2 separate regions of the Homo sapiens genome follow, and region 2 is linked to region 1. The links come from fine-mapping of genetic effects on gene expression. A gene starts in region 1. The other region holds a variant in brackets. All regions are shown on one strand. Distances are between the middles of the regions. Region 1 holds the start of AUH (AU RNA binding methylglutaconyl-CoA hydratase). Region 2 overlaps AUH (AU RNA binding methylglutaconyl-CoA hydratase).

Region 1 (15,664 bases):
GGGAGTTTGGTCTCTTCTCATTTAACTATTCAATCATTTATCTGTATCAGTATGTATACATGGATATTTATTTTATGCTTTCGGATATCATGCTATGCCACTTTATTCTATTGTTCATCTTGTTCCAGCTGTGGCCACTGGGAACTCTCTCAGTTGGTTCCTGCATCTCTTTGACATCTGCCCATCATTTTGGGGTTATTTTGAACACTTTCTTATTTTCTGGCACCACAACATCCTTCAGGCTCATCTTGTATATTTCCTGCCCCAGTCCTAGAATCACCCATTTCTCCAAGGATCAATGGGGAATTCTTTTTTACTGGAGGATGGTATTAGAAACCAAGATCTGACACTAGGTGTGCTCATTGTCGATGGTGTGTTATTGCTTCTAGTTCATCTTAGCTGACAGAGCAGGAGTGTGTGTATACTCATGTGTGCATATGTACTTATCTGTAGATGTTTCTATGTGTATCCATCTATATCTATATTAAGCTAAACATGAGTTCATACTGATGTTTCCAGTGCTAAACCCTTATCAAACAAATCATCCTGGCCTCCTTCCCTTGCTTATCTGTAGTCTCCCATACCAACAGGGAGAAACTGGCTTCTACCATCTGCCATCCATTTACTTAATTGTTCACTGATATCTTTAAAAAATGCTAAATGTTTCTATCAATTACTAGCATGGTTCTCTTCAACATTCTAATTGTCCCAGGCAAGGCCAGTAGAAACCCTTCCGAGCTGTGGTCTTTCACATTTCTGTCAATTGTGGAGCACTTCAGTGTTTTCTGGCACAAGGAGATATTCTGATCTCACCTAGTTTTTCTCTGTCTCAGACACTCAATCAGTCATCTCTTCAAGGATCCCAAATCCTGTCTCCTGACTTTTGCAGCAGCTTTATTGAAGTATTATTCACATGCCAAGCAATCCCCCGATTTAACATATACAATTAAATGGTTTTTGGTATATTCTCAGAGTTTGTGCAACCATCATACAATAAACTTAGGACATCCTTATCATCCCCAAAAGATGCCATGTACCTTTTTGATCTCATCCCCTAGTCTCCCCATCCCTCTCATCCTGAGATGACGAAGGTTTGTATTTTCAGGACATGGCACATGTGTTTGCATATTTGCATGTATGCACGTATACACAATCAGCAACTATGGAATTGTCAGGGGGAAGAAGCAGTATCTGGGAAATCGTGACCATGCAGGATCCAACGCAGTGGGTGAAATTTCCAAATGAAATGATAATAGAAGGGCTTGATAAAACTCCCTACTGATTGGGGTCAGAGTAGTGGTGGAGAAGATGAAGCCCTTACAATCAATTAGGAAAAGCAAACAAAAGAAAGTCATGATTAAGAACTCAGGTTTTTGGAGTGGAGTGTTTGAGTTCCAGTTCCAGCTTTGTTATTTATTAGCTATGTAACTTTCAGTAATTTATGCCTCTCTTTACTTGTCTGTATAATGTCTACTCTTCTCCAGAGGTCATGGAGCTCATAGGCACACATGGTTGCTACCTAAAATGAGACCTACAATACCTTGGTGGGGGTGGATTGCAGTGTCTGGTCAAGGAGTCTCTGCAGGGCAGAGTGAGAGAGGGTGTCTTCAAACATACCTTTTCTCTGGGGGTAGTGTCCTTGGGTAAGGCTTACTGGATCCCTTCAAGGCTCTAGAGATTGGATTTTCTGGATTTGACATCCAATCCCTCCTTTTGGAGGTAAGTACTCAGACTAGATGGGAAAAGACCTTCTGGAGTGAAAGGCCACCATGGGGCTTATGATATCGTGATATACTAAGAAAAAGATATTTGGTCCTTGCCTTAGTCCATTTTGCATTGCTATAAAAGAATACCTGAGGCTGGGTAGTTTCTAAAGAAAGGAGGTTTGTTTGCCTCACAGTTCTGCTGGATGTAGAAGAAGTAGAAGCAGGTCAGGAGATTAGTGGGTGTAGTACTCTGAATACTCCAGCTTTTCCACTCTTTCACTCTTGCCATTTCTTCCTTTTTTTTTTAATTATTATTTTTTTCAGTGGCAGAGTCTTGCTATGTTGCCCAGATTGACCTTGAACTCCTGGGCTCAAGCAATCCTCCTGCTTCAACCTCCCAATGCACACCACCACACCTGGCTATACTCTTCTCATTTCAAACAACAAGCCCTACCCGCCTTTTCCCAAACTGATACTCATTATTCCTGTTTCATACTTGACAATCTTTCATTGAAAAGTAGAAATTCCAGAGGTCATGACATTTTATTGAGTACCTTAACATTTATTGAAAGGCTGTTCTAACTAGTGATTAAGAATATGGGCTTTGGCTGGGCCCACTGGCTCACACATATAATCCAGCGCTTTGGGAGGCTGAGGCAGAAGGACGGCTTGAGCCTAAGTTCAAAACCAGCTTGGGTAACATAGTGACACCCTTGTTTCTAGTAAAAAAAAAAAAAAATTAAAAGATTTTTAAAAAAGAAAAAGAACATGAGCTTTGGAGTCAGATGTATCAGTATTTGAATTCCAGCTCCATGGCTTCCCAGATGCAGTCTTTGGTAAGTAACTTAATCTCAGTTTCCTCATCTATAAAAATGGGGGTAGTAATACCAACTTGAAAGTTTCCTGAACATTAAATAAGACAGCGAAATGCCTTCTTAAATAGACTAAGAAGGAAGTTGGTAAATGGTAGCTAATATTTCCACGCTGCTCTATTTCTTTCTTGGTGCCAAGTGTTTTACATACTTATCAACCCAATAAATGGGCATAATTATTCTCATTTTATAGGTGAAGGAATTGAAGATAATTCAGTGGGGCATGGTGGCTCATGACTGTAATCTCAGCACTTTGGGAGGCTGAGGCAGATGGATCACCTGACGTCAGGAGTTCGAGATAAGCCTGGCCAACGTGACAAAACCTTGTTTCTACAAAAAGAAAAAACAAAATTAGCTGGGCATGATGGTGCCTGCCCATAGTCCCAGCTACTCGGGAGGCTGAGGCAGGAGAATCACTTGAACCCAGAAGGTGAGACCACGCCACTGCCCTCCAGCCTGGGTGACAGAGTGAGACTCTGTCTGAAAAAAGAAAAAAAAAGAATTCATAAAGTGAAATAGATATATTAGCTATACTGCAGATGAAGAAGAGGAAGCATGAAGTATTTAAATAACTCACTGATGTCTCAAAGTGGAGCAATTATAGAGCAGGGATCCAAAGCCATGTCTATTTGGTTTGGAATTTGTTAAATTCCTGATATTTGGCAATTTGCTGTTAGTTGTCATGCTTGACAGGTTGTGATAGTCATGGTGATGTTTATTAGTTGCATTAATTTTTAAGAATCAACTTTGGTCACAGACCTGAGATACGTGCATGACTATTGCAAATAAGGACGAGAGTCCCAAATGTTAGGGAAGGGGATAGTCCTCTATGTTGCATTTTTTCCATCAGGCTCTATGCCTTTAGAAACAATGGGTGGTCCTTTGTTTTCTTCTATAACCCAAACAATCTATGATTATCTTTCTGCAGCTGTCCTAGTCAATTATCAGTATTATCTGAAGTTATATTATTTTAAATAGCACTGTCAGGAGCTCTGTATAACTGCTTTCTCTAAATTTACCATCTATTGATGAACCGACATAAAGATATCAAAACAACTGGAGACCAATATTAATAAACAGTAATTATATAATTGCAATAATTGCAATGGTTGATCTGTAAATACAATTGTGAGTTTCCTAGTGTTACGGAACCTTTGAGGTGTCGATTTCCTGGCCAGAAACCTCTGTGGCTGGTGGCACCTTTGCCAGAGTTCTTGTCCTGGGTCCAGGAAGAATGAGGTATGCAGACAAGTGGAGGGTGAACAAGACAAAGAGAAGCTTTATTGAGCATTAAAACAGCTCGGAGGAGACCCGCAGTGGGTAGCTCCTCTCTGTAGGCAGGGTGTCCTGAAGTCTGCCCAGCTCCTAGGAGAGAGGAGGCCCTGGAGAGGGTAGCTCCTCTCTGCAGCTGGTTGTCCTAACATCTGCCCAGCTCCTAGCAGAGAGGAGGCCCTGGAGAGGGTCACTCCTCTCTGAAGCTGGTAGTTCTGACATCTCTGCAAGTCTCTGAAGCTCTCAGCTGAGAGGGTAGCTCCTCTCTGCAGCTGGTTGTCCCATCATCTGCTCAGCTCTGGCTGAGTTGGGGATTTTATGGGCCTCAGAGGGGAGCAAGTGCCTGCCGCTGATTGGTCCATGGGCAGCCATGGGCAGGCTCGGAAAAGGCACCACAAGTTCCCACTCTGGTTCATGGGGCTGGCAGCCCAACCCCCAGCCTTCAGGCCCTCCTTGGCCAGAAGCTGGGGCCTCACTGGGGACCCACCCCCTTCTGCCCAGGAGTCTGTCTGCCTCCCACTGCCATTCATGGTGCCTGGGTTCAGCCTCAACTTTGCTCCAAGAATGGAGCAGGTGCCAACAGCAGGGAGAAGCCAGGCAGCAGGAGCAGGCATTTCTGAGCCTGTGAGGGCATGCAGGGCCTTCCTGGGCCCCCAAGAGTGCAGGGATGCCTGGGGCTGCAGCCGTGGTTTGGGTGGCTACAGCTGCCCTCGGGGAGGGCAGGGCTCCTGCCTGCTCCTGGCCCCCTAAGAGCACAGGGAGGCTCAGATCTGCAGCCACACCTTGGGTGGTGCTTCTGCCTGCTCTGTGGAGCAGGAGGCCCCAGTCTGCAGCTGTGCTGCAGAGGCAACCAGGGAGTTCCCACCCCAACTCAGAAGGGGTGGGTCTCCCGCTTGTCCCTGGCTCCCGCCAGAGAGCGTGCAGCCCTGGCCATGCCTCCCTGCTGCAGCAGTAGGCCGTCTGGAGCAGCCGCTGCCATCTCTAGTACAGTAATTCTCATAATTTTATTTTGCCTTGGTATCCATTTTGAATATGTTTAACTTTCTCATATGAGAAGCAGGGCTCAATCACCTTTGATACAGTTTCCAGTTCTCTGCTTCCTCCCAGTTCTTCAATGTGATCCATCCAGATATCTGCTTAATGCAACTGCTTCCTGGTGACCATCTCCCTATGGGACAGGTAAATGCAGCCTGCTTGACTCACCTGTTGACCTCCATAACCCACATGGACTGTGTAGATGGGCTCCAGTGACCACCTCACAGTGACAGGGTGACTCCATGGAACTTGTGCCTGCTTGTTCTAAACTCACCAATTAGAACTTCCATGGGAAACTGCTTGGGTAACACGCTGGACCCCAACAGAGGCTTTAGCTCCACAAGTGCCCCTTCCTTGACCCCCTTCCACTGGCTGAACTCCCTGTCACCTCCAGATTTACCCTCCCTCTGGTGACCACAAGACCAAATTAGAAAGAAACCATAACAATAAAAATCACAACACCCAGCAGTCAACATGTACATCATTATCAGAAAAGAGGAAAGATACAAAGGAAGCAAAGTTTTCCTTGTAGTAAACTTCAGGAAAATTTTCCTGCATGGAACTTTACAAAAGATAGAATAAAAAGTGGGCTGTGCATGGTGGCTCACACCTGTAATCCCAGCATTCTGGGAGGTCAAGTTGGGTGGATCACTTGATGTCAGGTGTTCAAGACCAGCCTGGCCAACATAGAAACACCCATCTCTACTAAAAATACAAAAATTACCCAGGTGTGGTGGTGTGTGCCTGTGATCCCAGCTACTCAGGAGGCTGAGGTGGGAGGATCATTTGAGCCTGAGATGCAGAGGTTGCAGCGAGAGGCGATCACACCACTGCACTCCAGCCTGGCCGACAGAGCCAGAACCTGTCAAAAAATAAAAAATAAAAATAAAAATAAAAGTGCCTTCAACATCATTTTACAGCAGATGCAGTAATGGAATTCAGTCTACTTTTTGTTTCTACATTGGATAAAAGTTGAGGACATAATGAAGGATGTTTTGCTTAGGACTAAAAAATACAAGAAATTTCTGTGGCACTAGACGTATGCTCATAGCAGCACACTTTTCAAACAGTATTCTTTTTTTTTTTTTTTTTTTTTTTTGAGACAGAGTTTCACTCTTGTTGCCTGGACTGGAGTGCAATGGTGCAGTCTCAGCTCAGGGCAACCTCCGCCTCCCGGGTTCAAGCAATTCTCCTGTCTCAGCCTCCCGAGTAGCTGGGATTACAGGCGTGTGCCGCCACACCTGGCTAATTTTGTATTTTTAGTAGAGACAGGGTTTCACCACGTTGGCCCGGCTGGTCTCAAACTCCTGACCTCAGGTGATCCACCTGCCTCGGCCTCCCAAAGTGCTTGGATTACAGGCGTGAGCCACCGCCCCCTGCCCAGTATTCTTAAATGCAAGCTTTCCCATTAGAGATCTGATAAAAGCTAGGTAGCATTAATTATACTGCAACGTGCTTTGATGAGTACCTACACACTAAATTGATATCCCGAGTTTCTGGAAGAGCTACATACTCTAAATCCCATCTCAGCGTATGGCTTGTTTGAACCCCTGTAAGACTCTTTCCGTCCAGGAAGGGCCATGGGACATCGGTACGAGTGGGTGGGCTGGAGAAAGAACTCCTTTGCCTGTTTGCTGTTCTCATCCTTTTCCTGAACGCCACGTAGTAAACATCATTTATGCTTATCAGGGACGCTAAACCAACAACCTGAGATCCATAAGTAAGGCAGTGACCAACGATGGGCTGCCACACTTTCAGCCAACTTGAGGAGACAAAACTTTTTTGTTCACTTTTGCAGCTTACTTAACACAGGACCGCAGGGCATGGTCCAGGGAGTACGGGGAGATAATTCCCTCCGGGTGGTTCTTATAGAAAAGTCTTCCCTGAATTATTCCATAACCTTGGAAAACTACTTTCTTTCCTTTTGTATTGGACAAACCATCCAATCTCGCTTGGAGAATGGGGCAAGGCCTCGGGTCACCGGGCTTCGGCGGGGCAGTGAGGGGCGGGAACACGGCTCCGGAGGGCGGGGCCAAGCCGGAGCGAGGCGGCGGGTCCGGACGCCGTGCGCGTGCGCGCGGCAGGTCGGCGCCGGGCGGGGGCGGAGCGGCCGTCGCAGGTCCACGCCGTAAACAGACAACATGGCGGCCGCGGTGGCGGCGGCACCTGGGGCCTTGGGATCCCTGCATGCTGGCGGCGCCCGCCTGGTGGCCGCTTGCAGTGCGTGGCTCTGCCCGGGGTTGAGGCTGCCCGGCTCGTTGGCAGGCCGGCGAGCGGGCCCGGCGATCTGGGCCCAGGGCTGGGTACCTGCGGCCGGGGGTCCCGCCCCGAAAAGGGGCTACAGCTCTGAGATGAAGACGGAGGACGAGCTGCGGGTGCGGCACCTGGAGGAGGAGAACCGAGGTGAGGTGCGAACGCTGGGCAGGCGCGGGGCAGCGGGCGGCCGCTCGCTCTCAGGACGGGCATAAGGTGCAGCGTCCGCCGGCAGGACGCGGGGTCGAGGTCAGGCAGGCGCACCGAACCTGGGTCCCTCCCCTTTCTCACCTCCCTACTCACCCAGCGTGGCCGCTTCCTTGTGCACCTATTTCTTGCTTTTAATAACCTAAACGTGTACCCCCGAGCAGCTTACCTGTAAAGTGACCGCATTCAGCGCGGCAAACAGAAGTGCAGCTTACGCCCTCCGCTCCAGACAAGCCAAGGTCAATATATACCCTGGGGATTTAATCCTTGCTACCAGGCTTTATTGTTGCTGTGTAATGGCTTTCTGTAAACTCAGCTATTAGTGGTGGAGTTGTAAAAGCTGCGGTGAAACTGCCTTTTATTATTACGGAGAATCTTAAATTTGAAGCTGCTCAGCTGGAACAATTTTTCCTCTTGTTCATTTTCTCTTAGAAAGTTAGTCTTGAGGGACTGTTCCACTTCATTTAAACAATTTTGAGCACTTTTTATTTTCCTCAGCTCTGGCGATAAGAATGTGGATGGTATGGATCTTGCCCTTGAGCTACCTTCTACGGGAGGAGACATCATTAGCAATACAATACAGAGCTTTGAAGGCTTTGAAGGAGGCTGACAATCCTAGGGAATACTGTTACAGCTCAGTTCCTTTCACTGGCAGTGCAGGGAAAAGCTAAAAGGGTCGTGAAGGGTGGAATAGCAGTTTCCACCCTTAACCTCCGGGTTAAGCCAGAGGACCAGTGTTTTAATTTTGACATGCATTTGTTGAGCACCTATAATCTGTTAAGCAGAAGTGAAAAGCGTGTAAGTCGTGATTGGTTTTAGTGTAGTGAAGCAGATCCTGGTTATTAGTAGGCTGTGTGAACTTTCAAGGCATGGTAAGAGGAAAGGGCTGTAATACCTGCAGGGTTTCGCCATTTGAAAGGGGTTCCAAGGCATTCTTTAATAGGCAGTGGATTTTGCCATTTGTGAGGGTTCTTGGGCAGACTTATCTCACGTGTAAAACAGGAAAAACAATACCAACTTTATAGGTTTGTTATGAAGATGAGATGAGATTGTTAATGTAAATTGCCACTAGCACGTAGCAGTGCTTCAGGAGTGTGATGAATGACTTTATTCCTTACTTATTATTCCAGACAGAGACAAGAACATGGTCAAAGGCATGGAGATGTGAACATGTGTGGTGTATTTGGGACGTAACATAAGGCAAGTGTGGCATAAGCAGAATAGTAAGAAATTCAGCTGGAAGCATAGACTAGCACTGGAGTGATTAGAGCCTGAATGCCATCATCTTTTGGGTAAGCTTAGTCATGCCGGGACTTCACTTCCGTTAAGTGTACCAACAATATGTTAGATATAAAGGGATTGCAAGTACAGCTACTAATATGCACCATATTCTATTTTTTTGGTCGTTATGACTTGAATGCAATTAAAGGAATATTTGTGCAGAATGTCTGGACAGACTTTAAGTTAGGATCTGAATGGACAGAAGAGAGAATATCAGATAATAAAAGATAATAAACGAAAATTTTTTTGGGTATCATGGTTTCTTTTTTTTTTTTTCTTTAGCCTTGATTTCCTGATGAGATAGGACATACATCATGGTTTCTTAAAGTTGACCCCGCCTCCTTTGAGAATTGGCAAGAATGACGACTCAGGCTTGGCTAACATTACCTAGGCTTTGCTTTGCTTTACTGTTGAACCAGCAATAAGCAGTGCAAAGAAAAACATGAGGTCAAGGGTACTACAGGTGAAGGAGTTTCCTGGGTGCCTTTATTTCTCTTAGAGGTGGGTCCAAAATTTGGTGCTCTCAGCAGCCTCTAAGGAATAGGATAACTCTCCTAGTCACAGGAGCCTCAAACAGCATGCAGCACTTTAGGTGGGTGGGGGTAAGTAGTGCAGAATACACCAGGTCTCATCTGTTATCTGGGCTCCATATTTGTAATTTGTTGTAGGAGGCATAGCTCTATAACCAAATTTCCTTTTCTTTTCTTTTTTTTTCTTTTGAGATGGAGACTGCCCAGGACTTTGAGGCTGCAGTGAGCTATGATGGAGCCACTGCACTCCAGTCTGGGTGACACAACAAGACCTTGTCTCTTAAAAAAAAAGAAAAAATGTATGAACCTATTTATGTAGAATAGCTCCAACAGAACATATGATCCATTTATGTAAAATAGCAACAACAAGCCAAATGGTAATATACAACTCTATTTCTGTATGTAGATACGTTGAACATTTTCTGGAAGGTTACATTACATGTAACTGTGATAACTGTGGCTTCTTCTGGGGAAGGGAATGAGCTGGTTCTAGGGAAGGAGGACTTTCACTTTGAGTGTATTTTTTCATTTTGTATAAGCAGAACGTATTTTGTTTTGTTTTTAAAGTCTCAGCAAAGTTGTTACATTCATCTTTCAGTTGTGTGAGCTTTATAGAGCAGGATTCATGCTGTGATGTGACCTTGTTACAGATTCACTGAAGATTTTTGTATGTTTTGTGAAAAGTCAGGAAAATTAAGGTTGGCATGTGAACGCCTAAGCTTTTCTGAGTTTGGTAAACTTTCTAGGTTATGTGAGGAGGATGCATGATAATTGAGTTCTTGAGAAGTGATTGAATTGTGAATTAAAGTGAGACAGTTATAAAAAAAAACTTTTAGACTTTGCTGAATAAAGCTAAGGTTTTATTCCATTTTAGAATACCAAAAGCCTACAGATACATTTGATGGTACAGTTGTTACATATTAGATAATTCATTTCAGATTGCAGAGCTAATTTCTAGCTTTTTGAAGTGGAAGTACTCAAAACATCAAGTCTCAGATATGGGACCAAAATTGCTGGAATTAACTGTGTTAGAAACATTTTGATGGCACTTTACCCTTCAGTAATAATGTCAGCATTATCATATCTAGCAGAAATTATGGTGAAACTTTTAATACTTACTGCATGAGAGGTGTTCATGCTAGAAGGGAGGTTAATTGGGTCCTCATGTTGTAAATTTTACATGTATCATATCATTCGATTCTAATACAGTCCCATGGAGTGTGGAACTGTTAGTATCTTAATAGAGTAAGAAACTGAGGATCAGAGAGGTTAAGTAACTTGCCGAATTCTTAATAGAGTAAGAAACTGAGGATCACAGAGGTTAAGTAACTTGCCGAATAGCTAGTAAGCGGCAGACTGGGATTTCATCCCCAGCAATCACACCTTAGAGCCTGCATTCTTAGCCCTTGGACGTTGTATCAACTTGGATGTCTGAAAGGCACTTCAGATTCACTTTAATTAAAAACAGAAACTCATGAGCTTTACTCCCCTCCACCCTCACCTTGGTAGTTTTATGATTTTGTCTCATTAAATGTCATCTTTCATCCAATTGGTGAAGCCAGAAACCTGGTAAATACTCCTTAACACTTTCTTCCAGTTAAATCAGTCCTCAGTCTAGGCATCATTAACTCATTTAAAATTTTTGAATAGTTCTTGAATCCTTTCACTTTCCTTTATTTTTACCACCACCAATCTCAGCCAAACCTGTTATCTGTTGATTGGACTCGAATTGTGTCTTGAAGCTCCCACCCCTGTCTACTTCTGGTATGATCTCCAAGTATAGAAACTATTCCCCCGCCAGTTTTATATGTGCATGTGTATATGTTTATACCTACGTAAACTCCTTCAATGGTTATTAGGATGAAGACCAGACTTTTTAGAAGGTCTGTAAGGATATTTCTGGCTTGTGCTGACCTCTTTACTTTCATTGGTCACTCTCTTCTCCCCCTCGTAGGTTACAGGACATTCAGTGGGACCATGACTAGTTTATGCTTTTCCTGTTTCCTCTGCCTGGCAGTCAGCCCCTCTCCTTCACTCTCACCTTGACTCCTACTTATCCTTCTAACCTTCACTGTCTGGGGTAAGCTTTCCCTAACCATCTCCTTTTGCCCCAGACCATTATCAATTCTGGTTACAAGTTACTGTAGCACCACTTACAGCTTGTAAAGCAGTTTGAATGGATTATTAATGATATTTATGATTATTAATGATTTCTATGATTATTAATGTTTGTATTTCCCTCCTAGACTCTAGTTCCATGGCTGCTGATCACTATAGTACGTACTCAGTATGTTTGAATGAATGGACACATCTAGTCTTAGCTGCTTGATTTTCTTCCTGAGGAAACTGAAGCTTGAACAGTGTAACACAGTTTTATTCAAGTATAGAGTTAGATTACCACTTAATAGCTGAAGGAAGTTACTTCACCTCTCCAAGTCTCCATTTCTTTATCCGTTAACTATTGATAAAAGTAGTGCCCACCTCTTGGGTTGTGGTGGGGATTACATGAGTTAATTCGCTTAAAGCACCTGGAGCAGTGCCTGAGGCCTACTGGTGGTAGCTGTTGTCAGTAGTATTGGGACCTACCCAAAGTCATTCAGCTGTTTAATACAGATCCTGTCAGATAGCAGTCCTTTATGCTTTTCTCTGTACTGAGAGCATTTGGAATTCTTGCAAATTTACTCTTGTGAGCAGAAGTTCATCTTTATACTTTAAAGAATGGGTCTGCACAGTTTCTTGCACAGCGAAGGCATGTGTACATTTTGTTGTCTTCAGTTTAGCTCAGTTGCAAATAAGAAACATACCCACCCTGACTCAGTGGAAGGTATTTCTGATACACTGTGAAAATTTGTCTACTCCAAGAACAAGAAGGTTAGTAGAGGTTGTGTAGAACTTTGAATATCAAATTAGGATCTTTGAAGTTGGATATTTTGAAATAAATAATGAAAGGATTTTAAGTAGGGGATGCATTCTATGCATAGTACTGTTTTTAGAAAATTGGTAACTGGAAGGAATGGGAGGCTGGGTTTAGGTGATGGTCTTTGATTAAAAAGTGGGGCAGTTAGGAGTGACAGCTGGGTTTGTGGGAGAGATAATGAACTTTGTTTTGTATAGGTTGAGTTGGAAGTACTTCTTGGACATCTAAATGGAAGTGCCCTCAGGTTAAGTATATCAGACAGAAATCAGGAGAGAAGCTTGGGATAGAATTACTGAAAACTGTGTAGTATGAACAACAAAAAAATGGAGATATTAACAACTGGTCCTAGAAAAAGCAGATGCTATAATACCTGCATGTGACAAGGTTTATTAGCGGTTACTTTGGTATCTACTTGAAGATGATGAAACCACATTTTAAATAGTATCCTTTAACTTAAAATTTTCACTAATAAGTCTAGTCTTCCCTCTAGTTTGAGTTAGTGATGTAAAATTTACCAAAATGTTGCAAATTATCTTGGTGCTTAAGAAGAGATCGATTGAAGGGAACGTGATGTCATGAATTTCTTTGATTTGTTAAGTTCGAAGCTAGCTAGATGTGTGATGTAGAGTCTGTTCTCTGAATGCCTTGCTCACTCAAGTGCTTGTACTTTTTTTCCCCTTTAACTAGGAATTGTGGTGCTTGGAATAAACAGAGCTTATGGCAAAAATTCACTCAGTAAAAATCTTATAAAAATGGTGAGTGTAAAGATTAAACTGTTTGCTTCTAATATTAAGATATATTATTGTCATCAATGTAAAAATGTTTTGTTTTTTTTTTCTCTTTTTCCTCCTATGCTTCCTATTTCTGTTTAGCTATCAAAAGCTGTGGATGCTTTGAAATCTGATAAGAAAGTACGGACCATAATAATCAGGAGTGAAGTCCCAGGGATATTCTGTGCTGGTATGTAAATATGTTGTATTATGAAATTAAACTGTAGTCTGATTTTTCCTCAATAGTAATCTGTTTTCCATTAGAATGTTCTTTGGTTTGAACCCCATTACCAACAACTCCTCTTTGTCTGTGTTTTACTGATTCACAAGAAAAAAACATGCTTAGTCTGTCAGCATTAGAAAGAAGCTTTTGCAACATTTAGATTGTTTTGGAAGTTGAAAAAAAATCTTTGAGCCATTAAAATACTTGTTTGTAGTACCTGTAGTACATGTAGTACAATGTTGTTTGTTGTGTCTTAATTGTGGCCAATATTCTTTAGTTTCATTCTTTTTTTTTTTTTGAGATAGAGTCTTGCTCTGTCACCCAGGCTGCAGTGGCGTGATCTTCGCTTACTGCAACCCTCGTCTCCCCAGTTCAAGTGATTCTCCCGCCTCAGCCCCCCGAGTAGCTGGGATTACAGGCGCCTGCCACCTCGCCTAGCTAATTTTTGTATTTTGAGTAGAGACAGGATTTCACCATGTTGGCCAGGCTGGTCTCGAACTGCTGACCTCAAGTGACCCACCATCTTTGGCCTTCCAAAGTGCTGGGATTACAGGGGTGAGCCACTGTGCCTGGCCCCTAGTTTCATTCTTAAGGATTCTCAATTTTTTAAAGCTTCAATCTCTGTGGCTTCTGCCTTAAAATATTGCAGAATAGTGTGATATTTAGAAATATGCAGTGTATTTTGGCTTTTGATAAGGTTTTATTGCCTCCTTAATACATTTCTTAAAATGTAGGATACCGAAAAGAATTAGTTTTAATTCCAGTTGAGTAACCAAAGAGTGTAGGTTTATTACTCCCAGCTGCTAGGGTTATGGTGTTATGCAGTACAGATTTCTGTTTTCACATTTGTCAAATGTGAGTAATACTGTCTGCTTAGTAGGAGTGCTTATAAGGGTTTTATGTATATTTTGAGTTCTTTGTTTTTTTAAACAATGTGAAAGACTTATATCAAGAGAATTAGGATTCTTATGTCTAGATCATATTCACCAGGTGAATATGATCTTGAGGTAAAGGAGTATAACACATGACTGATGGTTGAGAGGTTCTCTAAAGGTCATTGGATGGCTTATTGGGAAGATACAGAGTAGCTTTAGGGTTTTTAAAGAAGGCCCAATTATATGAATTTTTGAGGAGTGATATCAATGTTGTGAAGACAGATTAACATTTTAAAAATAAGTGTTAGTGGTCATCCCGGCATTGTTTTTCTGTTGGCAGTAGGTTTTATAATTATTGCACTATAGTTACTGGTGGAATTCTTTTTATTTTACATATTCTTTTGCAGCCCATTTGTTCTAGATTTCTGCATTAGGAATATACTTTGAAAAAAGCTTTAATGCTTTAGCACAGTTTGTGGATGTCTGTTACAGATTGCCTTTTTGAGGACATGCAAAATGTCCTCAAATAATATACCACATGCTGTTTATTAGAATAACATGTTAGCCTTGAGTACTTTTTAACAAGTTAATTTAATCTATTTACTTTGCTTTATGTGCTTTTAAACTTTCGTACAATCAGGATAATCTTTTAACTCAAGATTTGTGACTGTATTTTGTCAACAAAAGTCAGTGTCTTAATTATAGAAAAATTGGGGCATATCATTCTCTTTTAGTAATTCAGTGTATATGATGGAACTGTTCTTTCAGATTTCTCCGAAAGGTTTTCCTTTCTTGTTTTTTTTTTTGAGACGGACTTTCACGCTTGTTGCCCAGGCTGGAGTGCAGTGCCACGATCTTGGCTCACTGCAGCCTCTGCCTCCTGGGTTCAAGTGATTCTCCTGCCTCACCCTCCCGTGTAGCTGGGATTACAGATGCCCGCCACCACGCCTGGCTAAATTTTTGTATTTTTGCTAGAGACGGGGTTTCAACATGTTGGCCAGGCTGGTCTTGAATTCCTGACCTCAGGTGATCCACCTGCCTCGGCATCCCAAAGGGCTGGAATTACAGGCCACACATGGCCTCTTTTTTACATGTATTTACATTTATAAGCTGACCAGTAGGTCTGTCTTTTTTTTTTTTTTTTTTTTTTTTTTGAGACGGAGTCTTGCTCTGTCACCCAGGCTGGAGTGCAGTGGCACGATCTCGGCTCCTGGGTTCACCCCATTCTCCTGCCTCAGCCTCCCGAGTAGCTGGAACTACAGGCGCCCGCCACCAAGCCCGGCTAATTTTTATATTTTTAGTAGAGACAGGGTTTCACTGTATTAGCCAGGATGGTCTCGATCTCCTGACCTCGTGATCCGCTCACCTCGGCCTCCCAAAGAGGTCTGTCTTTTAACATGTACATATGAAATAAAATTATAGGTAAATAAAATCTCTTTACATTATTTAAAGAATATTTAAACTTACAGCCTATATTAGTATAAACATCTTAATCAGGCCACATTTATCAGTTATTGTTGAGGAATGTGGTCTTTCACATAATTAAAGCTTTAATTTGTACTCCAAAGTAGTAATATTAAAAGAAACCTCTGCTGGGCGCGGTGGCTCATGCCTGTAATTCCAGCACTTTGGAAGTCGAGGTGGGTGGATCACAAGGTCAAGAATTCGAGACCAGCCTGGCCAACATAGTGAAACCCTGTCTCTACTAAAAATACAAAAAATT
Region 2 (15,664 bases), 64 kb after region 1:
TACGTCCTTTCTAATAACTGAATTTTTTTTTAACTTTTCCTGGACATAGGTATATATGAATTGCTTTTTAAAGAAATTATAGGTGTTCTCTTCTAATTGACTAAGGAAGTCATCTGATTTATATCAGATCAGATTGTTTTATAAACATTCTATCATGTTGTTTTAAAGATGCTAAAGGAAATAATATCCTAGTATGGTATTAAAATAATATATTGCTGAGTTTTTCCAAATGAATAATGTATTGCTGAAATTTTCCAAATTTTTCCATGTAATATTTTCAAACTGCAGTTGACCATGGGTAACTGAAACCTCAAAAAGTGAAACTGCACGTAAGTGGAGACTACTATAATTTTAGATTTACTCACACCTCTGTTACTTGGTGCACAAGTTTTAAATTATATCTCTCCACCAGTACTTGCTTATGAAAGCTCAAGAAACCAGTGTACTTTGTTTTTTTGGCTTTTTTACTTCATTAAGCTGTTTTACTTAATTCTTTAGTTAGAAACATTTTGTAGACGGCTTTCTACAATGCTAATTTGTTAATTAATAATTTAAAGTACCAGTGCTTAACCTATTTAATGATTTGAGAATATTAGTATCCCATTTTTCTTGTTCTTTTTGTATGTGGAACCCAAATTTCTTGTCATTTTGTGTTATATATTTCCTATAAGCTTTAGGTACAAGGTGCTGTTAAGAGTTAAGGAAGGTACTTTCTGCCTTCATCATTGAGTATAAAATCTGCAGCACTGCAGTGAGGCTGTCCTCATGCTGTTGCCACTCATGGTCTTACTCTGCATCACTCGCAGTATTAGGGAGGAGTTGGACCCTATTCCATGTTGCCCACATGCCTTTGGTTTTAGCTAAATCGAGGATTGATTACTTATTTTATGCTGTTTCTAGGCAGTTTTTCTCTTTTTTTCCTAGTAAAAAAGTAAATTTAGTCCTCTTTTCTGTGTGAATCCATACAGCCTGAAATTACTATGACAGGCTTGTATAAAAAAGCATGTGAGAGGGAATGCTAGCTTCCAGCAATTTGTTCTTGGTATAATGACCCTTTCTGTAAGGAATGTTGCTGCTCTTCATCTGTTAGTTTTTCTTCACAACAACTTGTAGAATTTTTCCATTTCATTTAGATTTTAACCTAGTGCTAGAATCGAAGTGTCATATTTAAATACTGTTACTTTTGGCTTTTGGATATGTGTTCCTTTTAAGGTCTGTGGTGCCTGAGACTTCTCACTTTGAACTCCCATCTCTCACCTGTGGTATTATGTTTGCAGCAATGACCCTGGTGTGGGCCTCCAGGGAGCAACAGCCCAGCCAGCCTGCAGGCCTCACTCAGGGCTTGTTTTGTTATTGTGATTTTTTTTAAACCTCAGTGATGGGAATGGGAGAATATACATTAGGATGAAGGTAAAGTTTTAGCCAAAATGAAAGATAATTAGGTATTTATTGTAATTTTCAGTTAACTTAGATTTTATTTCTATTCTTCTTGAAAGATTTTAGTATTCAGACTTCCAGCATAATGCTACATAGGGCCTTTCCCTTGAAATGCTTGATTTCACTGCTTTCTGTAGGAACACTATTCTTCAAGCAAAACCAAATTTAAAAATCCTGTGGGGCTGGGCGCAGTGGCTTACGCCTGTAATCCCAGCACTTTGGGAGGCCGAGGCGGGTGGATCACGAGGTCAGATTGAGACCATCCTGGCTAACACGGTGAAACCCTGTCTCTACTAAAAACACAAAAAATTAGCTGGGCGTAGTGGCGGGCACCAGTAGTCCCAGCTACTCGGGAGACTGAGGCAGGAGAATGGTGTGAACCCGGGAGGAGGAGCTTGCAGTGAGCCGAGATTGCGCCACTGCACTCTAGCCTGGGCGACAGAGCAAGAGACTCCGTTTCAAAAAAAAAAATCATGCGTCTGACACTAACATTTTCCTTTAATAATCAAATTGTTCATATTTTTCTAGAAGCATCAAATAACCTACATTATGTGTTGTATTTATCTGAGAATCGAAAGTAGATACTTTAATTTTCCCCACTTTCATAGTCCCTTGAGTCTAATTATCGTAGGCTGCAGGTCCTACAGACTACTGAAGTGAACCAGGGGCCTGCCTTACAGTTGCTTTTTTCCCTCTTAAAATAGCAAACTGTTTAATTGTTTGCTTTAATTATATTTTTAGGAGCATTTCAAAGGATTATTATCTTCTTTGTCATACCTGGCTCATTTCCTGGTACGAAACTGAAAATAGTATCTGATCCTATTGGTTGCATAACATACTGAGTCATAATTTCTTCCTCTTGCTGTTGGGAATAGCCATTGCTCGTTGGATTCGCAGTTCCTGTTTCATTTATTTGTGCTTATATACAACTGTCATTTTGCTATTCCTTTAGATCTTTGAAATTCATAATCTACCTTTCTAAAGGTGTATTTTATTGAGTTCCTGCTATGATTATTAACATTTTTTTTCCTTTTTTTTGAGACAGAGTCTCACTTTGTTGCCCAGGCTGGAATGCAGTGGCACGATCTCAGCTCACTGCAACCTCTGCCTCCAGGGTTCAAGCAATTCCCCTGCCTCACCTTCCCAGTAGCTGGGATTACAGGCACGCACCACCATGTCTGGCTAATTTTTTTGTTTGTTTGTTCGTTTGTTTTTTTGAGATGGAGTTTCACTCTTGTTGCCCAGGCTGGAGTGCAATGGCGCGATCTCAGCTCACTGCAACTTCCACTTCCTGGGTTCAAGCGATTCTCCTGCCTCAGCCTCTTGAGTAGCTGGGATTACAGTCATGTACCACCACGCCCAGCTAATTTTGTATTTTTAGTAGAGATGGGGTTTCTCTATGTTGGTCAGGCTGGTCTCAAACTCCTGGCCTCAGGTGATCTGTCTGCCTCAGCCTCCCAAAGTGCTGGGATTACAGGCGTGAGCCAATTTTTGTATTTTTAGTAGAGATGGGGTTTCACCATGTTGGCCAGGCTGGTCGCCAACTCCTGACCTTAAATGATCCACCTGCCTTGGACTCCCAAAGTGCTGGGATTACAGGCATGAGCCACACTGCACCCGGCCCCCTCTTTGATTATTAAGTGCTCCCAAGTAGAAGAAATACTAGATGTAAAGAAACCACATATATCAGACTGGCATGTGCTTTGAGATGATGCATACTTTCCTGGATAAAATTTACTACGACAGACATCTTTTAGGGAATAATTAGGATGATGTATAGCCTTAGAATTTATAATATTGTAAAATGACTAATATTTAATTACCCATTGAATACGAATTAAGCTGTTTTACTTAATTCTTTAGTTAGAAACATTTTATAGACAGCTTTCTACAAGGCTAATTTATGTTAATTAATAATTTAAAGTTCCAGTGCTTAACCTATTTAATAATATGAGAATTAGTATCCCATTTTTCTTGTTCTTTTTGTATGTGGAACCCAAATTTCTCATCATTTTGTGTTACGTATTTCTTACAAATTGTAAGGCATATGGTGCCTGAGACTTGCTCTTGGAGCTCCTGTCTTCCATCTGCAGGCCCTGGTCCTCACCTCTGGTATGTCTCTTGGCACCTAGGCTGGCTCTTTTTGCAGTGACCCTGGTGTGGGCCTGCACAAAAGGAAACAAGCCCTGGAATTGTTAAGCTTCTCAAGGGCACACAATTTTCATCCTCTTTAGAAACATAATTTCTCAAATTCTTTCTTAAAAAATCAAGACGAGGTCTCACCATGTTTCCCAGGCTGGTCTTGAATTCCTGGGCACAGGCAATCGTTCGTCCTTGGCCTCCCAGAATGCTGGGATTACAGGCATGAGTCACTGTACCTGGCTCAAATTCCTATTAGACTTAAAAATAGTTTTTATTAATTCCAAAAAGTATAAACTTATTGGAGAAATAAGAAAGATGCATTTATCACTCCAGAGATTCCAAGGGTTTTAAGAGCTGTGTGTCTGGAAACAGGGATGAAGACCAAATATGTATTTCATAATATCACGGCCTCCAGCAGCTACTTGCTGAGTGACTTCAGCACTTACGTAGCAGGGAGGGAGCACCCACTCTTTCTCTGCTTCTGCTCTCTCCATCTTAGAACTCTTGGCAATTTTTCTTTTCTTTAGCTCCATAGGACTGCATATGTTTATTTCTTTATTAAACAAAAGAAGTTAATAAAAAAAAGAAAAGTAGGCAAAATACCAGGATTAATATAATAAAGGAGGAAGAGGCAGTGAAAAACCGTGAGGTTTGTCCCAGATTAGTAAGAACGTTATTGAGTAGCATTGATGTGATGTTAATTTTTGTTTCATATGGGCTGTATGGTAATGAATGTTCTGATAGAAAAGGTTATGCACAGAGTGCCATGTAAGCATAGAGGAAGGGACATTTGAGCCTCGACAGACAAGTAGGGGCTAGCTAGGCATTCTAGGCAGAGCTGCACCTTGTATACAGATATTGAGTCTTGAATGGAGACTTTTGGAGCTGTTTTAAGTAGTTTGGGGCTGGAACAGAATATCTGAGGTTTTGGAAGAGATTAGGCAGGTGTGCAGAACTTAGTTCCAGGTGCCTTCCTGTGCCATGCTAAATGTTTACACCATTTCTATCCTGAAGGTAGAATAAATCATTGAACAGTTTTAAATAGGGGAATAGCATGACTGTGTTTACATTTTAGAAAGATTACCCTACAGGAAAGGTAGAAGATGCATAGAAGGGTGGCAGATTGCAGGTGAAGGAGATTAATTAGGTACTTCCTGCTGGTGAGAAATGATGGGACCCAGAACTTGGGTGGTAGAAAAGGGCATTGGCAAGGAGGACATCTGGGATGACTTCTGAGTGTCTTGAGTAACTTGATGAATGGAGGTGCTACTAACTGAAATACAGCCTAGAAGAAGGATTGAGAAGAAATGGTTTGGACACATGAAGTATTTAAGTGGGTATGTCCAACAGGCAGGGGGCTGTTTGGGTTTGAGGTAGAGATCTGGAAATCATTGGTGGTAGTATAGGTGGTAAAAGTTGTGGATGAGAATGAGATCTCCTGGGAAGAGCTTTTATTGAGAGGGGAAGAAGGCTGAGAAATTACCAGAGGTAGATGGAAAGGCAGGAAAAATGAGGGACCCAGCAGGCAGTGAAGGGAGGAATACAAGGAGGGAGTGTCCAGGATGGATGTCTCTGATCTTTTGAGGCAGTACATTTAATAGGTACTGAATATTGTCCACTGGCTATAGGACAATCTTATAATGTCATTGGTAACTGGAACAAGAATGGTCTTGCTTGTTTGGAGGTGAATGGGTATGGTGGCATGGGTTTACTCTACTCCTCTTAGAAGCTGGTCTGTAAAGGAGGTGAGCTGGAGGGCCTTAGCAAGGCCTAAGGAAGGCTTCTGACGGGTGAGACTTGAGGTTGGAGAGATAGTAGGTTGAGGAGGTCTAGAAATAAATGATCTCTAGACAGGTTTTTAGGAAGGAAGAGGAGTTGAGAGTCGGTAACCAAAGTCATTACATTCTACTTGTAGTAGCTCAGGATGACCTTGGGAAGGACTCAGTTTAACTTGCTGTTTTATATTTTTATTGATTTTTCTTTTCTTTTTTCCAGATAAAATTCACTAGATATTGTTTGCACATTAAACTCATTTCCAGACTGCAAACCCTGACATAGCTGTTATTTTTTTCACTAAGTGTTCTGGAAAGCACATTTTGAATTTGTCCTGTCCTTTCAAGTCCCTCCCCACCCCCAACCCCTAAATGTTCAGACAGGTACAGATAGTGAAATACTGCCTGTGCAAAAGCCCCTTCCACGCCTGCTCTTCTGGGAGTGCTTCAGGCGGCAGCTGTGTATATGTGCTCCTTCCTGGCCTTTTCAGACTTGATCTTCAATAAGTGATGAATTCCTTTATTTATGAATAAAACTCAGTGTACTTCAGCAAATTTGTATATTTTAAAAGGAGTCAAGGAGTGAGCCTCTGGGGGATTTTACATATCAGAATGGAAGAGAGAGATTTTGGGGGATAGTACCTTTTTATTGTTTTTGTTTGTTTGTTTGTTTTTTGAGACAGTCTCACTCTGTCACCCAGGCTGGAGTGCAATGGCACGATCTTGGCTCACTGCAATCTCTGCCTCCTGGGTTTACGCGATTCTCCTGCCTCAGCCTCTTTGAGTAGCTTGGATTACAGGCACCCGCCATCATGCCTGGCTAATTTTTGTATTTTTGTAGAGATGAGGTTTCACCATGTTGGCCAGGCTGGTCTTGAACTCCTGACCTCAGGTGATCCTCCCACCTCGGCCTCCCAAAGTGCTGGGATTACAGGCGTGAGCCACAGCGCCCGGCCGATATTACCTTTTTAAAATCCACTTTCTGTTATATATTAACATTGGCCAGCCTTGCTTCACATTCCCATAGTCAGAAATAAAATTAATAGAGTTCTGCTTTTCAGAATAACTAATAAAACCAGTCACTTTTTGAACTGGTTATGAAAATGAAATCTGTATGTCATAATTTACAAAAGTTGTATTAAAATAATACTCAATTTCTGGATTCAAGCAAGTTGAGCTTTTAGTTCTGTGACTGGCTGACCCCTTTCCAGGCATGCTTGTGAGCAGGTTCTCAGGGCATCTTGCCTCTGAAGTGGAAGAGCCTGATTGTTTTCCAGCTCCCATTCATAATGTTAGGGCTCCTCACTAAATGACAGCTCACGGGCCAATGCCACAGCAACTACTTGGACAGTTTCTTTCTTGTTTGAGCAGATGTCTTTCTTTGAATGAGACTCTGTCATTCCAAGCACTGAAGTAGCCCATAAAGGATCATAAATTTCACAATTATGTATAAGTCATTTCAATTTGAACTTTGTATGAACCAAACATCTTGTGAAAGACTTCTGGCTCTAAGATTAAGAAATCGTAGAACTGTGATTCTGTTAATTCAACAAAAAATGTTTATGAAAGTAATTCAATAATATGGGAAGATTTAAAGATATTGCACATACATGTGATGGAACACTATACAGTAATTATATAATGTTTTGAAGAATAATGATGGAAATGCTTATATTTTGTTAAAGGTAAAAGGGATACAAAAGTCTGTATATGATCTCCCATTTAAAGCATAAATTCACAGAAAAAAATTAAAAATGAATTACACAGTGAGATAATAATCTTATTAAGGAAGCATAAAATTTTCTTTCCATTTCAGCTAATCTTCCAGTACCAACAATTGCAGCAATAGATGGACTCGCTTTAGGTGGTGGTCTTGAACTGGCTTTAGCCTGTGATATACGAGTAGCAGGTAAGAATTAATCCTGTTAAAAACATAATTTAAAAAAGTGAAGGTTGTGTTTACTCTTCAGGTAATTTTAAATATTTTATTCTGCTTCCTGTTGTTGAGTAGAATATTTTCAAAAAGTCACTTGTTGGTCCTAATGGTGTTTTCGAAATTCCCACCTGAAAAAAGTCTTGTGTTGTTTCTTGCCAGGATTTGGGTCAGGTAGAACTGAGTTTGAATCTTAGGTCCTGGACCAGGCGCGTGGCTTGCACCTCTAATCCCAGCACTTTGGGAGGCTGAGGTGGGAGGATCACTTGAGCCTGGGAGTTTGAGGCTGCAGTGAGCCATGATCGTGCCATTACACTCCAGCTCAGGTGACAGAGGGAGACCCTGTTTAAAAAAAAAAAAATTAAAAAGGAAAGAAAAAAAGGAAAAGAATCTGAGGTCCTCCCTTTTTTAGGCCAATATCTTCCTCTTTAGAGGAAATGGGGGAAATGACTGTTGCTGTTGTGAAGATTAAGCAATTAATCTGTGGATGTTAATCTAAGTACTAAATCACCATTTGCTACAGTAATGATAACTGAATCTCCTTGAAGTCCACTTTCTTCCTGAATGGTTTTCTGAGGATCTTATGAGGTGAATAGAAAAAGAGTGAAAAGAATTAGTGCCCACTGCTTACTGTGTGCAGTCCAGGCACCCAGTGTTATTCTAGCACTTGACATGTATTCACTCACTCCATCTGCATAACAACCCTCAGAGCAGGTACTTTGGGGCACTGGAGGAAACTGGAGAAGGGAGAGAAGCCCCAAAGAAGTGACTGAACTGAGATTTGAACCCAGACTGTTTGGCCACAGCCCACACACCTGTTACCTCATGAGAGCAACGTAGACTGATCTCCCATATTCATCGTTGTGGACACTATATCCATAGAGACTCAGCTCTGCCTGTGTCCTCGGGCTCTGAGACTGAGAACTGGGCACAGCAGACGGCACAGAGTTGTCACTGTTCTTCTCTTGCTTTCCATTATCGTTTCTGATGTGGCTGCATGTTAAAAGCAGAGCTGCCAAGGCAGAAGGATTGATTGAGGCCAGGAGTTCAAGACTAGCCTGGGCAGCATAAGGAGACCTCATCTTTATAAAAGATTTTTTAAATTTTTAGAACAATGTAGCGTCAACATGATTCAGTTTCTTGGGATTTCTGGTTGCTAGTCCATGTGTCCTTTTTCCTCCTTTTCACTTCATTTTAGGAACCTATTTTCTTGTAATGAAATCATTGGATTTTAAATTGAAAAGCTAAGGTACATGTAATCCATTTCTGAAAGAATACAGGTTTTGGAAATTAGAATATGGGAAGTAGTCTAAGTATATTTGGATATGCAAATAAAGAAGTTATTAAGATGTTTTAAAGTAGCCATGAAAACAGACATGAAAAGAGGAACCCTGTCCACCTGTCAGAATAGTAAAACTATTTGTCAGAAGGTAACTAAAGACTTGGTCTTGAAAAGTTGCCATATCTGATATGACCTATTAAGCTCTTTGGTCTGGGGGACTATATTCAGGCAACTGAAGAATTTGGGCTTGTCAGATACTGACAAGTCTGCTGATCCTGAATAATTAATAGATCTATGCCTCCAAATATGTCTTGGCAATATTGGGTCTAATAATGGAGTTACAGTCCTGGTCTTGTGAATCAAAAATTAATTCACTGCCAAGCAGTTTTTAACAGAAAATGTTGTGGGACTCTCCTAATACATGTCATTTAGAGTGCTTACTTATTTCCATAACAATGCCTTTTAAGTGATTTTTTTTAAGAATTTGTGATATCAATTTAATTAGTAAACAATATTTTAGTATATCTCATAACTTTTTCAAGTTGTCATATTTGAATGTGATGATATGGATGATACTTAATTTTCTTTCTTTCGTTTTAGCTTCCTCTGCAAAAATGGGCCTGGTTGAAACAAAATTGGCGATTATTCCTGGTGGAGGTATGAGTAGTTCACGCCCATTCCTCAAATCCTTGATTTGGTCCTAGAAACAGGGCATAAGGCAAAATCATGTTAATTGGAAAGGCAACATTTTGCGTAAAGAGACAATGGCATATTGTTTGCATCCCTAGCAAAGTCCCCATTCAAGTTACAGGCATACCTAACAGATTTTCCCCACCGCAATGAAACAAATACTGCGATAGAGCAAGCCACACAAATTTTTTGGTTTCCCAGTGCATATAAAAGTTATGTTTACACTATCTGCAGTCTGTTAAGCATGCAGTACCATTATGTCTAAAAACACAATGTACATATCTTAATTTAAAAATACTTTATTGCTAAATTTTCTAATGGTCACCTGAGCCTTCAAAGAATCATAATCTTTTTGCTGGTAGAGGGTTTTGCCTTGATGTTGAGGCTGCTGACTGATTAGAGTGGCGGTTGCTGGAGTGTGGAGGTGCTGTGCCAATTTCCAAGGACA[G/A]CAGTGCAGTTTGCCACATCAGTTGACTCTTCCTTTCACAAGAGATTTCTCTGTAGCATGCGCTGCTGTTTGATAGCATTTTACTCATAATTCTTTCAAAATTGGAATCAATCCTCAAACCCTGCCACTGCTTTATCAACTAAGTTTATGTAATACTCTAAATCCTTTGTTGTCATTTCTGCAGTGTTCACAGCATCTTTATCAGGAGTAGATTCCATCTCAAGAAACTGTTTTCTTTATTTGTCCATGTATTAGTCTGTTCTCATGCAGCTAATAAAGACATATGCGAGACTGGGTAATTTATAAAGGAAAGAGGTTTAATGGACTCACAGTTCTACATGGCTGGGGAGTCCTCACAGTCATGACAGAAGGCAAAGGAAGAGCAAAGGCATGTCTTACGTAGAGGCAGTCCAGAGAGAATGAAAGCCAAGGGAAAAGGGAAACCCCTTATTAAAAAAAGCATGAGATTTCCTGAGACTTATTCACCACGACGAGAATAGTATGGGGGAAACCCGCCTCCATGGTTCAGTGATCTCTCACCATATCCCTCCCACAACATGTGGGAATTATGGGAGCTACAATTCAGGATGAGATTTGGGTGGGGACACAGCCAAACCAGATCAATCCACAAGAAGCAACTCCCCATCCATTCCAGTTTTATAATGAGACTTCAGAAATTCAGTCACGTCTTCAGGTTACTCTTCTAATTCTATTTCTCTTGCTCTTTCCACCACATCTGTAGTGACTTCCTCCACTGAAGTCTTGAATCCCTCCAAGTCATCCATGAAGATTGGAATCATCATCTTCCAAACTCCTGTTAATATTGATATTCTGGCCTCTTCCCATGAATCATGAATGTTCTTAAAGGGATCTAGAATGGCAGATCCTTTCCAGAAGGTTTTCAATTTAATTTGCCCAGATCCATAAGAGGAATCACTGTCTATGGCAGCTATAGCCTTATGAAATGTGGTTTTTGTTTTGTTTTGTTTTTTTGAGACGGAGTCTCGCTCTGTTGCCAGGTTGGAGTGCAGTGGTGTGATCTCGGCTCACTGCAACCCCTGCCTCCCCGGTTCAAGGGATTCTCCTGCCTCAGCCTCCTGAGTAGCTGGGACTACAGGTGCACACCACCGTGCCCAGCTAATTTTTGTATTTTTTGTAGAGACGGAGTTTCACCATGTTGGCCAGGATGGTCTTGATCTCTTGACCTCATGATCTGCCTGCCTCAAGCTCCCAAAGTGCTGGGATTACAGGCGTGAGCCACCACGCCCAGCCTGAAATGTGTGTCTTAAATAATAAGACTTGAAAGTAGACTGATCCATGGGCTGTGGAATGGCTGTTATGTTATCAGGCATGAAAACAACATTCATCTCCTTGTCTGTCTCTGTCAGAGCTCTTGGGTAACCAGGACATTGTCACTGAACAGTAATATTTTGAAAGAACTCTTTTTTTTGAGCAGTAGGTCTCAGCAGTGGGCTTTAGTATTCAGTAAACTATGCTGGAAACCAGATGCACTGTCATCCAGGTTTTATTTGTTCCATTTATAAAGCATAAGCAGAGTTAACTTAGCATAGTTCTTAAGGGCTCTAGAAGTTTGGGAATGATAAGTGAGCAGTGGCTTTAACTAAAAGCCACCAGCTGCATTAGTCCCTAACAAGGGAGTCAGTCTGTCCTTTGAAGCTTTGAAGCCAGGCATTGACTTCTCTTCTGTAGCTATGAAAGTCCTGGATAACATCTTCTTCTAATAGTAGGCTGTTTTGTCTACACTGAAGATGTGTTATTCAGTGTAGGCACCTTCATCAGTGATCTTAGCTAGATCTTCTGGATAATTTGCTGCAGCTTCTACATCAGCACGTGCTGCTTCACCTTGTACTTCTGTGTTACGGTAGATGGCTTCTTTCCTTAACCATGAAGTAGCCTCTGCTAGCTTCCAACTTTTCTTCTGCAGCTTCTTCACTTGTCTCAGACTTAACTCTAGAATTAAAGAGAGTTAAGAGTTATAGTTAAAGAGAGTTAGGGCTTTGCTCTGGATTAGGCTTTGGCTTAGGGGAATGTTGTGGCTAGTTTGATCTTCTTTACGGACCACTAAAACTTTCTGCATATCAGCAATAAGGCTATTCTGCTTTCTTCTTATTCCTGTGTTCACTGGAGTAGCACTTCTAATTACCTTCAAGAAACGTTGCTTTGCATTGGCAACTAAGCCTAAGTGGTGCAAGAGGCCTAGCTTTTGGCTGATCTCAGCTTTTGACATGCCTTCCTCACTAAGCTTAATCATTTCTAGTTTTTGATTTCCAGTGAGAGACGTGTGGATCTTTGCTCTACTTGAACACTGCAGAAGTCACTGGAAGGTTATTCATTGGCCTAATTTCAATACTGTTTTGTCTCAGGGAATAGAGAGACCCAAGGAAAGGGAGAGAGATGGGGGAACAGCCCGTTGGTTGAGCCGTCAGAATACATGCATTTATTGGTTAAGTTTGCCATCCTATGTGGGCGTGGTTCATGGTGCCCCAAAATAATTACAGTAGTAACAACAAAGATTAATGATCACAGGTTACCATAAGAGATACAATAATGAAAAGGTTTGAAATATTGTGAAAATTACCAAAATATGGCACAGAGACATGAAGTAAGCACATACTGTTGGAAAAATGGTGCCAATAGACTTGCTTGATGCAGGGTTACCATTAATTTGTAAAAATGTAGTATCTGTGAAGTACAATAAAGGGAAGCACGACAAAATGAGGTATGCCTGTATGCCCTATTTTTAGCTTACGTAGACAGTGAAGATGGTAGTTCTTAAGTTTTAAGTTACTGTGCTAATTACATTTTTGTCACTGTTTGGATCTATTTTCCTAAAGGATTACACAAATATTTTAAAGCTTTTATGCGTGCATTTAAATGTGTGTGTCCTCACCAACAGCTTCATGCAGACAGTGAAACCCCAAGTGGAAGAAGAAGAGAGGTGCCTGGGTGCGGTGTCTTATGCCTGTAATCCTAGCACTTTGGGAGGCCGAGGCGGGTGGATCACTTGAGGTCAGGAGTTTGAGACCAGCCTGGCCAACCTGGTGAAACCCCGTCTCTACTAAAAATAGAAGAATTAGCCAGTCATGGTGGTGCGTGCTTGTAATCACAGCTACCTGGGAGGCTGAGGCAGGAGAATTGCTTGAACCCAGATGGTGGAAATTGCAGTGAGCCGAGATCACACCACCGCACTCCAGCAGCCTGGGTGACAGAGCGAGACTCCGTCTCAAAAAAAAAAAAAAAAAAAAGAGGGTTCCCAGGCTTTGTACCACCTTTCTTGTGTTTCTCTGCAGTGGGACAAAAGTTGCGGTTAGTGGGTAGCCTGAACTTAGAGCTGAAGAGGTGTTGTTTCTTCTATTCCTATGAAAAAAATAGATGAGCTTCTGTTCTTGAAAGAGCCGTTTAAGAAAACATCTTTCCAAAATTGATAATGAAATCTTGCATCACCCAATAAATCTGAAATTTTTGGTCTTTTGATTCAGAGAATTTGGAGGCATTCCCATTTTGTGAAGTCATTCTTTCAAAAAGTAGACTTCATTTAAGGATATGCATGTTATAGTAACCTTCCTTGGAACTTTTTTTTTTTTTTTTTTTTTTTTGACACGGAGTCTCACTCTGTCGCCAGACTGGAGTGCAATGGCACAATCTTGGCTCATGGTACCTTTTATGTATGCTAAATGATGCTTAGAGTATGAATGAAACAACAGTAACAATGTAAATATTAAACTCAGTGTTGAACATGGAAGACATACTTGCATATGAATTGGTTAAAATTGTGTGGTTAACCTTATCATTAAAAGAGTATTTATTCTGATAGGTAGAAATTTAAAACATAGGTTACAGTGAAATTGAAGACTGCCCAGATGAATGTGTAAGACTCCCCATGTTTTCTACTTTGGTAATTGATGAAAATGTTATTCTTGTAGGCCAAAACATTTAATATATACTTACTCTATTATGCCTGCCTTTTTCACTGTGACTAATAAAAAACACCAGAAGGATTTATAAGACAGTGGATCAATTTAAAAAGAATTCCCAGATAACTAATATGTGAAATAAAGCAAAATTTAGCAAAAGGGTGATGTGACATATTTCTGAAATTCTTTTGAGAAGTAAGCATTTGTTGGTAATGAGGATGTGATTAATCCTAGAAGATAGAAAGATAGTGGCTGTAGTGGGTTGGATGGCATGCCGCCTCCACCCCCACCCCCCCAACAGACACCAAGAGATGTCAGCCTGGAAGGAAAAGCATCTTGCACGTGTAATTAAGGATCTCAAGATGAGATCATCCTGAATTATCTGAGAGAGGCTTAAATCCAAAGACAAGGGGTCCTTATAAGAAAGAGGAAGGCACAGAAGAAGAGAAGGTGATGCGAAGACAGAAACAGAGTGCAGTAATACATCTACATGCCAAGGAATGCCAAGGGTTGTCGGCAGCCACGGGAAGCCATGGGTGAGAGGCATGGAACAGATTTTCTCACAGAGCCTCTCGAAGGAACCACACTACAAACACCTTGATTTTGGATTTCTGGCCTCCAAAACTGAGAGAGAATAAATTTCAGTTGTTCAGAGGTACCAGGTTTATGGCAATTTGTTATAGCAATGAATACAGCGACTTTTTGGTGATGTTTACATGATTTTTGGGGACAGATGGGGGTTAGTAGGTGGCAGAAATTTGGGGAGGGAGCAAGATGAACTTGGTAATTTGGATATTTACTGTGACTTGATTATGAAAAGTTTTGTGTTACAACTACCAGAAGATAGAGAGCAGTGTTTGGTTTGATTAGATGAGAAAAGATAGATTATGCTATAACAACCTCTTCTGTCTTGTCTTGTGAACTCACTGTGCCATACCATATGAGGTCTAGAAACTAGAATTTTTTCCCAATATACTTAAGTTCTTTAGAGTCCTCTGCAATAGTGGCTGCATTAATTAGAACCTACTTTTTGTAGGTTTGATTGAATTTGGACTACATATTCTGACAAATAGAATTATTTTTCTAGTTTCTATTAAATAAATTTGTCATAAAAGTCAGAATGCTTTGACATATTCCCATGTACTTACAAAGGATGGTTGTCTTTTTCTTTTCTTTCTTTTTTTTGTTTGGAGACAGGGTCTTGCTTGGTCACCCAGGCTAAAGGACAGCGATGTAATGATAGCTCACTGCAGCCTCAAACTCTTGGGTTCGAGATCTTCCCACCTCGGCCTCTGGAGTAGCTGGGACTATAGGCACACAGCACTGCACTCGGCTAATTTTCTTCTCTTTTTGTAGAGGCAGGGTCTCACTATGTTGCCCAAGCTGGTCTTGAACTTCTGGCCTCAAGCAATCCTCCTGCCTTGGCTTCCCAAAGTGCTGGGATTACAGGCATGAGCCACTGCCTCTGACCTCTTTTGTCCTAAGTGAGTTTGAGGAATGTATTTTAGTTCCTCTTTTAATACCATGAAGCTTTCAAGTTCATAGCTCATAAAATGTTATGTAGCTTTGAATTTTTTAATGTAAATGAAAATCAGATTCATTTTCGTTATTAATAAAAATTTCAATAGTATTCACATTTAGATAAGAGATGCACAGAATTTTTGGTCTACTTTTAAATTAATATTACAGTTCTTAAAGTACCCTAGGTGATGCCTGTTCTTTTGAAACAGCAGAGATTTTATTTTAAAAATACGTTTTTGTGTTTATTACCTAAAGGAGCTATTCTGAAATTTTTATGTAGAAAAATCTTCTTCTGCTCCATCCACAGAAGATTTTTTATCCATAGATATTTTTGCCATCTCCTTTCTCCTCTTTCCTTTGTTGTAGATGATATGAAAAGACTGCTTTTTTCAAAAATTGTGTTTTTAAATTGGTGAATTTTGCCATGCCTAAAGTGATCTCTGAGATATCCTCCTTTTGGGTATAAACATTTCTGTTAAATGTTGTAAAGAGCTTTCTATAATA

The links. PIP is the estimated chance that this variant, and not a neighbour inherited with it, causes the effect.
Region 2: its variant is fine-mapped to the expression of AUH in whole blood (TOPMed, PIP 0.99).

Annotation. Positions count from the first base shown.
Region 1 is chr9:91,353,252-91,368,915 of GRCh38, reverse strand. AUH (AU RNA binding methylglutaconyl-CoA hydratase) reads left to right here and starts at 6,998. Exons shown (of 10, transcript NM_001698.3): 1 at 6,998-7,288; 2 at 12,761-12,828; 3 at 12,946-13,033. The coding sequence starts at 7,027. RefSeq lists silencers at 3,883-4,083, 6,828-7,267.
Region 2 is chr9:91,289,580-91,305,243 of GRCh38, reverse strand. AUH (AU RNA binding methylglutaconyl-CoA hydratase) reads left to right here. Exons shown (of 10, transcript NM_001698.3): 5 at 7,168-7,260; 6 at 9,167-9,223. Among named protein-coding and RNA genes, the nearest start is that of AUH, 65 kb to the left of the region's middle. The variant G/A (reference allele first, on the strand shown) is at 9,705.